Linked DNA regions of Homo sapiens: region 2 is linked to region 1. Evidence: fine-mapped expression QTL. Tissue or cell type: cerebellum. Region 1 holds a variant in brackets; the other region holds the start of a gene. All regions are shown on one strand. Distances are between the middles of the regions.

Region 1 (8,000 bases):
CCATACGTGTGAACTAGAATTTGAACCCAAGCCTCTGACTCTAGAGTCAGTGCTCTTCTCGGCTTTCCAGCCCCATATTACTACAATCCGATAAACAGATCCTTGTGTGATATTAGGTTACTATTGGAAAAAAAGGTTTCTGGGGTAGAGGAGACCTGGCTTCCTGTTCAAGTAGCAGTCACATCTTCCAGCACATGCCACGTCCTCTGAACTCGTTTTTCTGACCCCAGTGTTTCATGTTCCAAGCACCCTTAAGGAGTATTTGGGCTTTTTTTTTTCCTTCTCACCAATCTCTCTGTCTCTTGAACATCCAGTCACATTTCTGGGTTTGGCGTTTCACATTTCTGTTCTACCTTATTCTGGGAGTCGTTTTTTGAGGTGAAATGGCAGGTCTAGAGCCTGAATTCCTTGGGGTCTGTCTGGCGCCTGAATCCTGCAAGAGTAGGCTCAACTCAGGGACCCAAAGCTGAGGCTCATGGTTGGAAAGTAGACATCACAAAGGCCAGCATCCAGCAAAGGATCCTCTGCAAATTGCCCCACAGGTTTAAAGCCTGTCACTGTTGAAAGGTTTGCGGTCATAAGAGGAAAGTAGCAGAAGCCCTACAGCAAATAGGCACAGAAAATTAACAGGCCCCCTGCAGACATTTCCAGTGAAGAACATCTCAACTCACTCTGAATTAGGGCCTCTCTGGCCTGAGTTGAGTGTAAGAATCCTCTGAGAAGCAAGTTGGATGTGGAGAATCCTGGCTTCTACCTAAGGATTTTGATTCTGGAGGCCTGGGGTGGGGCTCAGAGATCTGACTTTTAATGGGCTCCCAGATAATTCCTTTTCTGGGATCCATAGATCACACCTTGAGAAATACTTTCTCAGAGCACCATCGTGAAATAGCTGATGTTCATGATGATGACTGATCCATCAAAAAAGGCAATTTTGCTCTATTTTAGAAGATAGACATTTAATAAGAGGTATCTGACTTATATGAAGATTTCTTATGTCTTAACTTTTTTTTTAATAGAATATGCTTTACCTACATGGAAAAGTCACTTAAACCACTGGATTTCCCAGGAACTCTACTATATTAAGGCTTAATGTGCTTTTTAGTACTTACATGCATGTTTACCTAAGGCTTAGAGCCTAGAAATTTGTATATCACAGACACTCAAAAATTACTTATTTTGTTTATCTAGAATCAGTACTAACCTTTCTAACGAAATCTCTTCTCCTGCTTCAGCTAAAGCCCCCTTGGTGTTCTCTAGGTTGATACAGAAAACTGAAAGAGCTAGAATGGAGCCCCAGGTTAGTTAATATCTATTATTGAATACTCAGCAGCAAACAATTCTGACAGTTAATGTACCCATGTTAATCACAAGGAATTTGCCAGGAGCACTCTGACACTGTCCTGTCCTGATATGCATGTTAAAATTGCCCACAGGTTCACAAAGGAATCCTCCCCTCTGCATTTTCCCCCATTCGTGCGGTGTGTCTATTGCCTATAGCTGGTTCTTCCTCTTAGGAGTAATCAGCCTAAGACAGAGCAGGCTCACCACCAGGTCCTACAGATGCCTCCATCATTTTACTCTGCAGTTTGTTACAGCTAACATTATTCTTAAGAAATATCTTCCTGGCTTGGAGGTAATTTCTGTGGTGAGTACCAAGATGTTTACTAAGCTGAGAAAAAGTCAAGGGTGATATAAAAACAGTAATTCTCATTCATCCCCAGAATGGCATTTCTGTGCTTGTGGGAATGCACTAGAGGTTCTGAAATCATAAATGAAGAATGTCAGAAATACAGTACTTTGACATTTTTTGACAAAGATGTAGTTAGCCATTCTTGAACAGAATAAAAGAAACTTTGACATTGAATGTAAAGTAGAAGTGATAACAAAATTAGCACATTTAAAAAGTTTATCATGTATCAGCTACAGTTCTAAGCAATTTACATGAATGGGCTCGTTAAAACTCCCCAAGAGGAAGACACTATGATCTCCTTTTCACAGATGAGGATTTTGACGCTTAGAGAGGTTACATAACTGTCTCAATGTGACACAGTCAGAACATGTCAGGGCCAGGTGGAAGGGATTATAATTTGACTCAGACCACATTGACACATGCATCCCCTTATTTTCTGGAACTAAAGCAGTTTCTTCATGAGCAGCATGATGGGGTCTTCTACACTTGTCAGTTGAATAAGGTTAAGAAGCCTCTGTTGTTTCAGTTTAAATGTTGAGTCAATCAAAATTTGGCTTCCTCTGTACTGTTTTAAATCATCTCTTTTTGGATGCCCTTTCAGAAGCATTCTCTGCCCCAGGAGGGAGGGCATTGGGCTGACTGTGTCCTGGGGGTAGGCAGGGGACATGGTGTCCTTGAGGCCACTCCCTGTCCCCCGGTTTCTTGCTTATCTTGCTGCAGCATCTGGGCTTGCATGGTGAGTTCCTGAAACCTGTGGCCAGGGGAATGCCTGGTCTCCTTCCTCAGCCCTAGGAATGTTCTAAAATCCTCAGCCTCCTTCCTCTGATGAATCTCCCTAATGGCAACTCTGATTACCTTGGACTTCCATTTGGCTGCTAACCCAGTGCCATTCCCTGGCAAGTTTACTGGCCAGCACCCTCAGCCACCTCCCTCTTCTTTCCATAAAACATAGAAGATCTTCTGAATTTCTTCTCCATACCACAAAAGCTTATGGAGAAACCTGGGAGCTAAACTCGGCCCTTTTTCATCAACTGCACTGCTTTATTTTAACGCAGCTGACCCTACTTGGAGCCAAGTCAGGCCTGAGAGGCAACCCTCTTGCAGACTCCCAAACAGGCGGTGGGGCAGCTCATCTTCTGCCTTTGGTTTTTCCCTCAGGGCTTTTCCTCCCTGAGACAAAGTTGGGCTCCATGTGTCTTTAAAAGGCCCAGTTCCCTGATTGAAGGCCCCAGCCCAGAAACGGGTGGGCAGGATTTGTCCCTTCCTTTCTCTTGTCATTAACCCCATCATACCACCACCATAATACGAAGTGTAGGATCAAGTCCACCTGCTAAAGTGGAAGATAAACACTTTCTAATCCTTTAAAAAGCCCGAGTTTCAAGTTTATTGTCTTGCTGCAGACTTGAGAACCCAATTTTGGGCTGTCAGAAGCTGGAGAGTACAACTTTCTTTTTGTATTTCTCCTGCAACAATCCAGAGGCACAGCCAGGGAGAGGTATGTCTCAGGCTGGCAATGGAGGAGGTCAGGCACATAGACATGCAAATAGAAAACCACGTTGATATATTACAAAAATATTGCCCCAATTTTCTATGACTAAAACACAAGCATTGTCACTCTAGAAAGTATGTTTTTATCTGCCATACTCATTGACCACTAAAGTAAATGAAATTTGTGGGGTTTTTTGGCATCAAGAGAATAGAGCAGTGGTAAAAGTAGATCAGACATGAAACACTTCAGTCCAGAATATGTCTACAGTTACAAAAGGAGCCAAAGCTAGACATGGCTTTTCTGAGAAATAGACAGTGAGAAATTAGAAAAGAATGATAAATTATGAAACTATCCTGTTTGGCTGGACATTTAGTAGATGGATCCAGGATTACCAGCTCAAAACTCAACTAATATTCATAACTGTGGCTTAAATCTTCATGAAACTCTTTCATTATACTGAAGAATCTAAAATGATTTTCAGTAGTCAACTACAGTCTAGTAAATCCAGTTTCCTATATTCAAGTGTTCTTTTTGCTCCCTTTCCATGAGACCTCATCGGTCTCATCTCTGATTCCCAGCAAGGCCCCTTCCATACTTGTCAACCTTCACATGGCATGTGCTTGCTCTTATGTCCGTGCCCTTCATGATTGCGTCCCCCAAACAGGAAGTCAATCTGTTCCTTTATTTCCTCCATGTCAACTTATGGCCACTTCTTTAATCTGGCATAAAATCCAAACTTCCACGAGTTCACTTTTTCATTAATATAGTACTTTGTAATTGTTCTAATATATTGTTTTGTAATTGTTCTTTTTTTTTTTTTTTTTTTTTTGCTCAACTGTGCTAAAGGTTCTCAAAGACTTTAAGAAGCCCTAATTACTTCTGTCATCCCGGAAACACATGGCACTATGCTTTAACTGAATAAATGTTCAGTTGATGTACTTTTTAATTTTTTAAATTTTATTTTTTGTGGGTACATAGTAGGTATATGTATTTATGAGGTACCCGAGATGTTTTGATACAGGCGTGCAATGCATAATAATCACATCGTGTAAAATGGGGTATCCATTTCCTCAAGCATTTATCTTTTGTGTTATAAACAATTCAATTATACTCTTTTAGTTACTTTAAAATGTACAATTAAATTATTATTCACTGTAGTCCCCCTGTTGTGCTATCACATACTAGGTCTTACTCATTTTTTCTATTTTTTTGTACCCATTAGCCATCCCGACTTCCCTTCCCACTTCCCATTACCCTTCCCAGCCTCTGGTAACCATCCTACTCTCTGTCTCCATGAGTTCAATTGTTTTGATGTTTAGGTTCCACAAATAAGTGAGAACATGCAATGTTTGTCTTTCTGTGCCTGGCTTATTTCACTTAACATAATGACCTCCAGTTCCATCCATGTTGTTGCAAACGACAGGAATTCATTCTTTTGTTTTTTGTTTTTGTTTTGAGACAGAGTCTCGCTCTGTCATCAGTGTGGAGCACAGTGGCATGATCTTGGCTCACTGCAACCTCTGCCTCCTGGGTTCAGGCAATTCTCCTGCCTCAGCCTCCTGAGTAGCTGGGATTACAGGCACCTGTCACCACACCCGGCTAATTTTTTTTATTTTTTTAGTAGAGACAGGGTTTCACCATGTTGGCCAAGCTGGTCTCAAACTCCTGACCTCAAGTGATCCGCCCGCCTTGGCCTCCCAAAGTGCTGGG[G/A]TTACAGGCGTGAGCCACCATGCCTGGCCAGGAACTCATTCTTTTTATGGCTGAATAGTACTCTATTGTGTATAAGTACCACATTTTCTTTATCCATTCATCTATTGATGGACACTTAGGTTGCTTCCAAATCATAGCTGTAGTGAACAGCCAAGAGCCTGTATTTGCTGCAACAAATACAGGAGTGCAGATATGTCTTTGATATACTGATTTCCTTTCTTTTGGGTATATACCCTGCAGTGGGATTGTTGGATCATATGGTAGCTCTACTTTTAGTTTTCTGAGGAACCTCCAGACAGTTCTCCACAATGGTTGTACTGATTTATCAGGGTTCCCCTTTTCTCCACATCCTTGCCAGAATTTGTTATTGCCTGTCTTTTGGATAAAGGCCATTTTAACTGGGGTGAGATGATCTTTCATTGTCATTTTGATTTGCATTTCTCTGATGATGAACGATGTTGAGCACTTTTTTGTATGCCTGTTTGCCATTTCTGTGTCTTGAGAAATGTCTATTCAAATCTTTTGCCCACTTTTATATCAGATTATTAGATTTTTTCCTATTGAGTTATTTGAGCTTCTTATATACTCTAGTTATTAATCCATTGTCAGGTAGTTTGCACATTATTTTCTCCCATTCTGTGGGTCATCTCTTCACGTTGTTGTTTCCTTTGCTGTGCAGAACTGCTCCCTTTATTGTCACTGAGGCTGGAAACCTAAAGAACATCTTGATGCCTTACTCTCTCACACCTCCTACATCCAACAAATCATCAGATTAGCATATTTTGACCTTCCAAATATTTTCCAGATCTATGTCTTCTTAAGTCTGTCATCTCGGCTCTTGTTCAGGCCTTATGACGCTCGCCTGGACCACCAGTCTCTGGCTTGGCTTCCTGCTTCAAGTCTGCCTTCCACATACCCCAGTGTGACTGAAATGAAACCCAAATCCAACCACATCAACGTCTCTGCAAAGTAACTGCCAAGGCCACAGGATTGAGTTCAAGCTCCTCAACATCCCACAAAGCCCTCTGTGGTTTCACTCTGGTCCAAATCTAGGGTTTTAATTCACACTATTTTCAGCCTCATATTTTCTGTTGCAATAACATCAAGCTACTTGATTTTCTCCAAACAATGCTTTGCTCATATTGTCTCCTCTGCTAGGAGACAGGTTGAGGTTGATACCATCTCAGCAGGTATGTGGATGATTTCCCTTCAACCTGGAGAAAGAGAATAGAAGTCCACAAGAGAAGGAGCATGAAGTAGCACAGTGTGCAGCGCAGGATGGGTGGATGTTTGTGACAATGGGTAACATTTATGCAAACCACATTTTCTGCCATAGGCCATTAGCTTGTATTCTGCTTCCATATTTTGGCTTGTGGTATACCACAATCTGTATTGTTTGTTACATACACAACTTTTAGAAATTTTAATTTTCAAAAGAAAGTTGATAGAAATACATCATTCCAAAATATAGGGAATACTCTTCTGATAAAATCATTATGTATAACATATATTTTCGGTTGATTCCCTAACATCCATTCCATCCTATCACTTCCACTTCCAAAGGTATCCAAACCATCAGTTCATAAAACTTTGAGAGTTCTGAATTAACCAGGTAGTTTTTAGGTTTTTTCCATTGCCAGATTTGGATTTAGCTTTCTTGGGTCTGTTCATTTAGTTATAAGTCATCTATCTACTTTCCAGCTTCCAACGTTTAGTAGTGGTAGCTCTTTTCCCATCTTCTTTGTTCTCGTTTGTGCCCCCTTAGAGTTTTTGGTGGGCTTTCAGGGTTGAATAGAGCTAAATGGATGGCTTCCACCCTTCATCTTTAATAGAAAGACTCCATTATTATTATTATTATTATTATTATTATTATTATTATTATTTCTTCTTTCTTCTTTTTTTTTTTTTTTCTGAGACGAAGTCCCACTCTATTGCCTAAGCTGGAGTGCAGTGGTGTGATCACTGCAACCTCCACCTCCCGGGTTCAAGTGAGTCTTCTGCCCCAGTCTCCCGAGTAGCTGGGACTACAGGCACGCACCGCCATGCCCGGCTAATTTTTGTATTTTTAGTAGAGATGGGGTTTCACTATGTTGGCCAGGCTTGTCTTGAAGTCCTGACCTTGTGATCCGCCCGCTTCGGCCTCCCAAAGTGCTGGGATTACAGGCGTGAGCCACCACACCCAGCCTCTTCTTTTTTTTAATGTGGTTGGCAAATGGTAGACATTTTTTAAGGGTCTGAAGCATAATTTTTATTATCTTTTCTCATCTTTACCATCTGTCTTTTTTTTTTCAGCATCTACATTAAGGATATACATCTGTCTTTTTTACCCCTTCCCAAAGACATTTTTTAAATGCTCATGTGTAGAAAAATTATATATATTAATATATCTATTAGTCTGCTAATAAAGATATACCCAAGGCTGGGTAATTTGTAAAGGGAAGAAGTTTAATTGACTCACAGTTGCACATGGCTGGGGAGGCCTCACAATCGTGGCGGAAGGTGAATGAGGAGCAAAGTCACGTGTCACATGGCGGGAGGAAAGAAAGCTTGTCCAGGGGATCTCCCATTTATAAAACCATCAGATCTCGTGAGATATATTCACTACCACAAGAAAAGTATGGGGGAACTGCCGTGATTCATTTATCTCCACCTGGCCCCTGTGATAATTGAATTACTACAATTCAAGGTAAGATTTGTGTGGGAATGCAGCCAAACCACATCAATATATTATATATTATATGTAAAGTTAATAGACTATTTTAAGAGCAATTTTTAGCTTCCCAGCAAAATTGAAAGATACAGAGTTTCTGCATACTCACTCCCCGCTTCCCAACCACCCCACAACACACATACCCAGTGCATACACACAGCCTCCCTCACCATCAGCATCCCCCATCAGTGCAGTACATTTTTTGCAATTAATGAGCCAAGGTTGACACATTATTATCAACCAAAGTCTAGAGTTTACATTAGGGTTCACTCTTTGTGTTGTAGATTCTATGTTTTGACAAATGTATAGTGACATGTACCCACCATTCTAGTAGCATATGGGTAGTTTCATTGCCCGAGCAGTCATCTGTGCTTCACCTATTCATCCTTCTATCTCCCTGA
Region 2 (8,281 bases), 660 kb after region 1:
GCCCCCTCCAAACCTCGTGTTGAAATTTCATCCCCACTGTTGGAAGTGGGGCCTGATGGGAAACGTTTGGGTCATGTGGGTGGATCCCTTATGAATGACTTAATGCCATCCTTGCGGTAATGAGTGTGTTCTCTCTGTATTAGTTCCTGGGGGAGCTGATTCTTTAAAAGAGTCTGACACCTCTCTCCCTGCTCTCTTGCTCCCTCTTACCATATGATCTGCACACGCTGGTCCCCTTTCACCTTCTGCCATGAGTAGAAGCAGTCAATGGCCCTCACCAGAAGCAGATGCTGGTGTCATGCTTCTTGCATAGACTGCAGAATTGTAAGCCAAATAAACCTCTTTTCTTTATAGATTACTCAGCCTTAGGTATTCCTTTATAGCAACACAAAATGGACTAAGACAGTGTTCCTCTAATTACTGATGAAGGAGTTGAGAGAATGCCTAGGTCATATTCTGGGTCCAAGGATAATGAATCCCAGAAATTTCAGAGCTTTGGGGCAGGTGTTAGAAATTCTACTATATCAAGCTTTTCTACTGACAAAAAGAAGAAAGAGAAAGAAAGAAAGAAAAAGAAAAAAAGAAAGAAAGAAAGGAAAGGATCTTCAAGAACAAATTTCTTCAAATCAGGTACGAAGGTCATTAATTTCTTCCTTGTTAGTTGGTAATGTTTTTTTTTTTCTACTCTAGATCAGCAGTGTGGGAGGTGGCTAAAATAGGGAGAAGCTTGTGAAACTATACTATGCCTTAATCTTGGTCAAAATATATAACTTTGATTTGTTACCAGCCTTTTTTTGTGTGTATTTCTATGACTTCATGCAGATACAATTCTCTGAAATATGTAAGTCCTAGCAGACTTGTCTCTTTTTAAATGATTCTAGGACCCCAAAATATCATCACCACTGAAATTAAGATGTTGGCACTGGTACTAGAATCAATAAACACAATGCAGATGCTACTATGGTAGCATATTAAAAGAATTTGAAAAAGTTGAAAAAAGATTTTCATCTAGCAGAGCTTTGGAGAAGAGCAATTTATTGTATCACAGACCTCAAGTGACTGATAAACACTAAAAATTACTTCTAATAATCATTTATTTCACAAATATGACTGCTTACTCTGGGCTATTTATAGTAGTAACAATGAAAATAGTGTGCTATATTTCTTCCATAAAGACTTTTACTACAAAATAACTGTCAGAAGGGCATGGGCTCCACGTTGCCTTTTTCTAGTCATTATGGTTATCCATGCTCTCTTATTTGTTCTGGTGTAAGTCCAATAGCATACTAATTCAAGACCATCTGTTGGGATTAAGATTGTGGTGCATTGTTTCTCTGGGTGCAAAACTAATTGTCTTTTATAGATTGATGAAACTGAAGATTTTATTTTGCATAATCTTCCCAATTAATTTAGTGCTGATTTTCACGCTTGAGAATGAGAGGTGGCAAATCTTTGGTTTGAGTTACCCTATTTAATGTTGGAGAATGAAAGGGAATGGATGACTAAGTTGGACTCCAACCTCCCACCAACTTTAATCAAAACAGCTCCAAGGCAGGAGGGCTTTAGTCCATTTCCCCCATCTAGGAATCACCTGTTTGCTTCTTAGTGGCATTATTATTCTGCATGTTTTTAACCTGCCTCAGCAAAAAGAGAGTTGACCTGAAAAGATGCTACTTCCTTGTCTCTTGATTCTCATCTTACAAAAGTAAAAAGTGTGACTAACACCCATAGGCTATCAGGTAAATACATGGTTGTTCCCTAGGAAATTCCGTTGTTATTTCTGCATTATACCCACCGTTTCTTCTTTCTGTTACCAAAGCCTCACAAAACTTCCTCAGTTCCTCGAAACCTGTTTTGTGAGGAGGAGACAGTGAAAACACAGACGTTCGCATAGATACTTAATGATGCAGTAGTTGTTATAAGTGAGGCTCACAGGTCTTACCAGCCTGAGTTAAAAGTTCATTTTGCCATTCTCTGGTTTTAGTATGACAGCGGACAAGTTACTGAACCTCTCTCTGCCTCCATCTTGGAAAAATTCGAATTCTTACAACATCTACTAAGTACAAGGGGTCCTGGAATAATATTTTGTTCAATGTCATTTTGTTATAACATTGATGAGAAAAAAAATTCAATTCCTGGGCCAGGCTCACTGTGTGGAGTTGACATGTTTTCCCCATGTCTGTGTGGGTTTTCTCCAGGTCCTGGAGTTTCCTCCCACATCCCAAAGCTTTGCCCATTAGATGCATTGGTGTGTCTACATGGTGCCTGTCTGAGAGAGTGGGTGGGTGTATGAGTGCCCTTTGACAGTACTGCATCCTGTCCAGGGCTGGTTCCTGCCTTGTATCCTCAGCTGCTGGGACAGGATCTGGTCAACCGTGACCCTGAACTGGAATATGCAGGTAAGCAGTTATCTTGTTTTTATCAATCTTTCATAAATGTATATATAGCTTAGATTTATTTCAATGTTTATTATTAGAGGTGTTTTGAGTATTTAGAGGTTTAGTGATGTTTTTGTGACTAGGAATATGCCATAAGAGCTTAACTCTTATTTATATCAATTAGCTCTTGGGAAAATTGTCTTCATTATCAATTGTTTCACTTTATGTCACAGTTTCCAGAACCTACAGAGGACATTAAGTGAGGACTTACTGTATATAGGTGGTTGTGCTTGTGAAGGATTAAATGAGGTAATGTGTGTGAAGCACTCAGGACAGTGCCTAGCACCTGGTAAGTGTCCATGAATTGGAGGCTATTATTGCTGTAATAAGGAAATTCATACACATTAAAATGGCTAAGAAAGTTCATTTTAAATAACCGTAACATGCACATTTGTATTGCTTTCTCGGATGATCTTGCTATTCTCTATTTCAGAGGAAGTCCGTGGAGAAGCCTGCCTGTTAGCTGTCTAGGGGTCAGGTGGCTTCTTGGCAGTATATATTACATGATAAACATTGACTTAATATGGACCATAACCACAAGGTAGAAAATAGGGAAACAGGGAGTGGAAAAACCACAGTGATCCTTTCCTAGAGAGAGACCAAAATATTAACCGCTGTAAACCTCTCATGTTACAGTTCGAACACATCTTAATAAATGATTAAATCTACTCTCTCATTTCATAAGTGGGGAACTGAAGCCCCCATAAAAGTTAGGGGCAGAACTATGACTATACTCAGACCACTCTTTCCCTGTATATTATATATACCTTTTATTATAAAAAATTTCAAAAATCACAGAAATACAAAGACTAGAACAATGCACACCTATGTACTCATCATCCAGCTTTAATAACAATCAAACTGTTACCTCTCTTAAAAAAACAGCTTTGATTCTGAGTCTGGTGTCATTTATACTCCTTCACAGAGATGTTCAGAACCAGTATCTTAGAGCACATCCCCCAGGCAAAGAAATGTAGCAATAAAAAGAGAAGGACATAGCATGAGAAAAAAAGGCAGGCTGTCAACCAATGCCTAAAATGTAGAAAGTTCTCTCAAGTTGTTTTTACAATAGTCTGGAAAACACAGTCTCATTCTGAAAGGACACTGTTCCTTTAAATTGCTTACTGATCCCACCCAGATCTTGCACCCTGGCCAAATGCCTGACCACTCTTGCTTTGACTTAGTCGAATAAACATGAACAAAAGACTGCAAAAGATCCTAAAGCAAAGACACTTTTATTTCCCACAGAACAGAACAATATCAAATAGCTAACTTCACCCCCAACCACAGTCCTTGCTGTTGGCATTTACTCAACTAGTCTTTAATTCCTGTTTGACAAACTTTATAAGGTAAGACATAACAGATTTATTTTAGTCACTTGAAATCAGATAGGACCATCAAGGAACTGTGGAAGACTAAATGACTTACTTACATAATTATTAGGTGAGAAAGCTTGTCAATAGTTTGTATTCTCTGCAATTACTTCAAATCAATTATTAGAAAAATATTAACATTGTTAAAATGTAGAAATTTAAAACTTAAAATTATTTTGAAATGGATTTTTAATTTACAGTCTTCTAAATTGTTTTACAACGATGTTAATATATTTTAGGACATCTTTTTCTTAATTTGGAACAGGGTTTACAATTCAGAATTAGTTATAGAATACTTTACAACTTGGCTAATTTGTCAATTTGAATAAAGTCTTTATTCAATCATTTTCTATTTGTGTAGAAACTGAGATGCAAACATTGTAACTAAAGTTGGTGAACTCTGATATAAGATCATTTTATTTTTGAAAAATTATAAAAAATAAAGTATCTTGGATTTATTTACTGATCCTGATATTTACCCCAAATAAATTTTAGGCCAAAAGTAAAACTACGGTATTTGATTAATAATTATGATTGTTTCTGCATTTATAAAATGTAACCTATAGTAAACACAGAGGTTCACATTTCTTTCACTTAACTAATGGCACTGTTTCCTCTGAAACCTATTTTGCTTGTACGTGACATCAGAAAGAGAGAAAGGTGAGAATTATTAAAAACAGAGGCAAAATAAAACATGGTAAAAAGTGATTAGAAATGAGTGGGCTCTCAAGATGCCAAATTAATAAACGAGAAAGATATTTCAGGGAAGCAGTAGAACTAACAAGCTAGAGAAACAAATCTAGAGAGGTATGAAAATGTCCTCTGGCTACAATAGGGAAACAGAAAGAAATAACAAGACTTTGGTTTGGGAGAGCTAGATTAACAATGTCAGAGCAAATAAGAACAAAATATGAGATACTGGGATTATTGTCAATGGAAAAGTTATGTTTGTGAATATCATATATACAGGGATCAGGTACAAATTCATGATTATATGCCAAGAAAACAGTAAGAGCAGGTGCTTAGTTTTGGGAAAAGATAAATCTTTATTTAAAGCCAGTATTTCTAAAACCTTACATGAAGGGTTTTGAAGAGTTGCTTGATTATGTTGCTTATAAAATCTTGCTCAGTTCTCAATGGAATTCAGTTCTCAGCCTCTTATTTCCAGAACTTCTGAGATGTTCCTTATGGTATGAACTCAACCAAAGAGAAAAGTCATATGTAATACCATGGCCATGGTGTTATTCCCTTTCCCCTTTGAAAATGCAATAACAACTGTGTTTTTCACATAGCCTTATCTTTACACTAACCTTCAGACTTAAAGTTGTACATCATTTATTTTTTTCCTTGGTTAGCAAAGGGACAACTTGAGGAGAGATGGCCTTTGTGTGTTCTGTTTCCTTAGCACATTTCTTGGTTTTGTTTTGTTTTTAATACCCAGCTGTCTTTACATTTTAGTATACCTTGTCTGAGGATCAGTTGGCATTTGGCCAATTGCTACACAAGATGTTTGGTCATACCTATCCAAAGTTCTTTTAATACACTTCCAGCTGGATGATGCTATGTGAGGAGCAGACTGTGGCATGAAGCCATCCATTGGTCCTCTCCTAACCCAACAGTTTTGTTTCCCTTTGGGGTTTATCCATCTGGCATGTATGAAAAAAGTCAGTCTCCATCTCACTCCTCACTGCCTTTGCATATATTTCCACTCTCTACTCAGAGTCTGGAAAAATCGTGCTCATGATTTCCCAGATTCTTATCCCCTAAAGGCAAGGTGCCAAAGAAGGAAAATGTGATTCCTTTTCCAGAACTCCTGAAGTCAATAAAGTTTCAGCAGGCAAGCATTTTTAAGCCATACTAAGTATTGATTCGAAATAAGCTTTCTCGTTCCCATTCTCTTGGGTATACTGAGGCAGCAACACATGAGTCTTCTCCTCCCAGGGAAATCTGTCAGTTTAAGAGTCAGTTGGTGTGTAGCTAGGCATATTGACTGATGAAGATTGAGGATTTTAATACAGAATTAGATTTTTCGTTGTTAATCCACCCAGAAAAATAGTTTCACGGGGCTATTCAGAGGGGGTGCTTCTTGGCTTTAAGTCCCGTTTCTGTCCATTAGTTCTTTTAGCCATCACTGGAAGAAGAGTGTTGCTTTTAAGCAAATCTATTATTTTTGCTCTCATACTCTTTTGATTCATTGCATATGCAGCTTTGAACCCCTGGTGGAGACAAAGTTTCCAAAGCTAGGGTAGAAAAGAGAGATGGGGTTCTATGGAAACAGAAGGGTCGTTTAATTTTTACCTTGACCTCTGAACTCACTGAAGTTATGTGTGTAGTATTAAGCCTGAAAGGGTGGTGGTTGTCTACAGTTCTACAAAATACTAGATTTGTCAGGAATCAGTTATAATGAAAGTGAATGAAATGACCATATAGCAATCTGAATTCCCCCTGAAGAATTTGGAAATGTCAAAGCAGACCCTGTGATTGAACCACAGTAATCATATAGAGCGGGATTGAAATGTTTTTAAATGGCTCTCCCAACTCTATGCTCCTCAAAATACAATGCGGAATTAAGAATACTTAAATATAGTTCTTTGAATATATAGAAATATTCACTAATAAATGTTTGGTCATGGTGCCATGATTTATTTGGATTGAAATCTTTCAAAATCTCAATGTGAATATTTTTCTAGAAATATGAATGAAAACCTCTTTTTTCCAGTCACATGCCAGTTTTCAACCCTGCTGGCTTGAAATTTAAAAATAACAAACACCATATTTTATTAAAGTATTTGTAACTGACTTTTCTATTAAAGGTGCTACAAGACAGATGATTTTTCACCATCTACCATAATGTGGAACAGATATTTTGTCTTCTATCTCCTGCTTTTGTCAGCGTTTACGAGTCAAACAGTATCCGGACAAAGAAAGAAAGGACCAAAATCAAATTTGCTTGCAAGGAAAAGTGATGTCCAGGGTAAAAAAAAAAAAATTGTTTGTTTTTAAGTTTAGCCTGTTAAAAATACTTATGTGAATTTTTCTAAATAGCATTTGATATAAATAGCAAGCCATATACATGTATACATGTGATAGTCTACTTTGATAAAATTATATGATGATAATATACCTTACATACTTATAGCACATCAGAGTCTTTAATAAGAGCACTTGTGCACTTATTATCTCATTTGAGCCTCACAGTAACCTTGTAAAATAGGCAGGACGGAGATTGCCACTCATAGTGTAGATTAAAAAAATTGAGGTCTTAACAGGTCGAGTGGCATACTCAAGGCCATAGGCAAATTAACCACTGAGACACAGAGCTGGGATTTAAACTTAAGTTGTGTTTAAGTTAGGTTTCTTCTCCACTTACTCTTGGTATAGGGGGTATAGTCATTTTCTCCCTTGATTTCAAGAAAGTTTAAAAAAAAATAGGGACTCACCAATATGACACAACCTGAGAATTAGAGTATCATTTACTTCTAGACAACTATGCTCAGTGTTAGTTGGATTTTTAAAATGTGATGCATCTTGACTTCCCATTTCCTCCCACTTTCAGCAGGTTTAACATTGAAAAGATGCTCAGAATAAAAGATATCTTATTTATTTTTAATTTGCATGATTTTACAAGGAGAAAATAATTCATAAACTTAGACATTTAGTTTTTTACAATTGAAGCCTTCTGTCCAACGTGTCTCTCTTTCTCTCCTCACGCTGCTCTCAACACCAAACAATATACAACACACCACTTCAGGGCTTTCCGTATGCAAATTTGTTTCATGATAGGAATAATTATTTTGCCTAACCTGTTTATTCTGTTTCAGGCTCCATTTGTTTCATAGATATTGTCTTCATCGTGGACAGCTCTGAAAGTTCTAAAATTGCCCTCTTTGATAAACAGAAAGATTTTGTGGATAGCTTGAGTGACAAGATTTTCCAATTGACTCCTGGTCGCTCCTTGGAATATGACATCAAACTGGCAGCCCTTCAGTTTAGCAGCTCTGTCCAAATTGATCCACCTTTTTCTTCCTGGAAGGACCTGCAGACATTTAAGCAGAAGGTCAAGTCTATGAATTTAATAGGGCAAGGTACCTTCTCTTATTATGCCATTTCCAATGCCACTAGGCTACTTAAGAGAGAAGGGCGTAAGGATGGTGTGAAAGTGGTTTTGCTGATGACTGATGGCATCGACCATCCAAAGAATCCAGATGTTCAAAGTATTTCTGAAGATGCCAGAATTTCAGGAATATCATTTATCACCATTGCACTTTCTACGGTAGTCAATGAAGCCAAACTTCGTTTGATTTCTGGGGATTCATCCAGTGAACCCACTTTACTGTTGAGTGATCCAACCCTTGTAGATAAAATTCAAGATCGTCTGGTAGGTACCTAATGGGTTGATTATACAGTTATCATCATAATATTGACATATTTGTTGTAAATCCCATAAGAAGAGATACTGGGTCAAAAAGA

Evidence for each region. PIP is the estimated chance that this variant, and not a neighbour inherited with it, causes the effect.
Region 2: it holds the start of COL28A1, and the variant in region 1 is fine-mapped to the expression of COL28A1 in cerebellum (GTEx, PIP above 0.99).

The regions. Positions count from the first base shown.
Region 1 is chr7:8,196,347-8,204,346 of GRCh38, reverse strand. All of the region lies in intron 6 of ICA1 (islet cell autoantigen 1), which reads left to right. Among named protein-coding and RNA genes, the nearest start is that of ICA1, 62 kb to the left of the region's middle. The variant G/A (reference allele first, on the strand shown) is at 4,890.
Region 2 is chr7:7,531,256-7,539,536 of GRCh38, reverse strand. COL28A1 (collagen type XXVIII alpha 1 chain) reads left to right here and starts at 3,664. Exons shown (of 35, transcript NM_001037763.3): 1 at 3,664-3,787; 2 at 6,625-6,785; 3 at 7,633-8,189. The coding sequence starts at 6,662.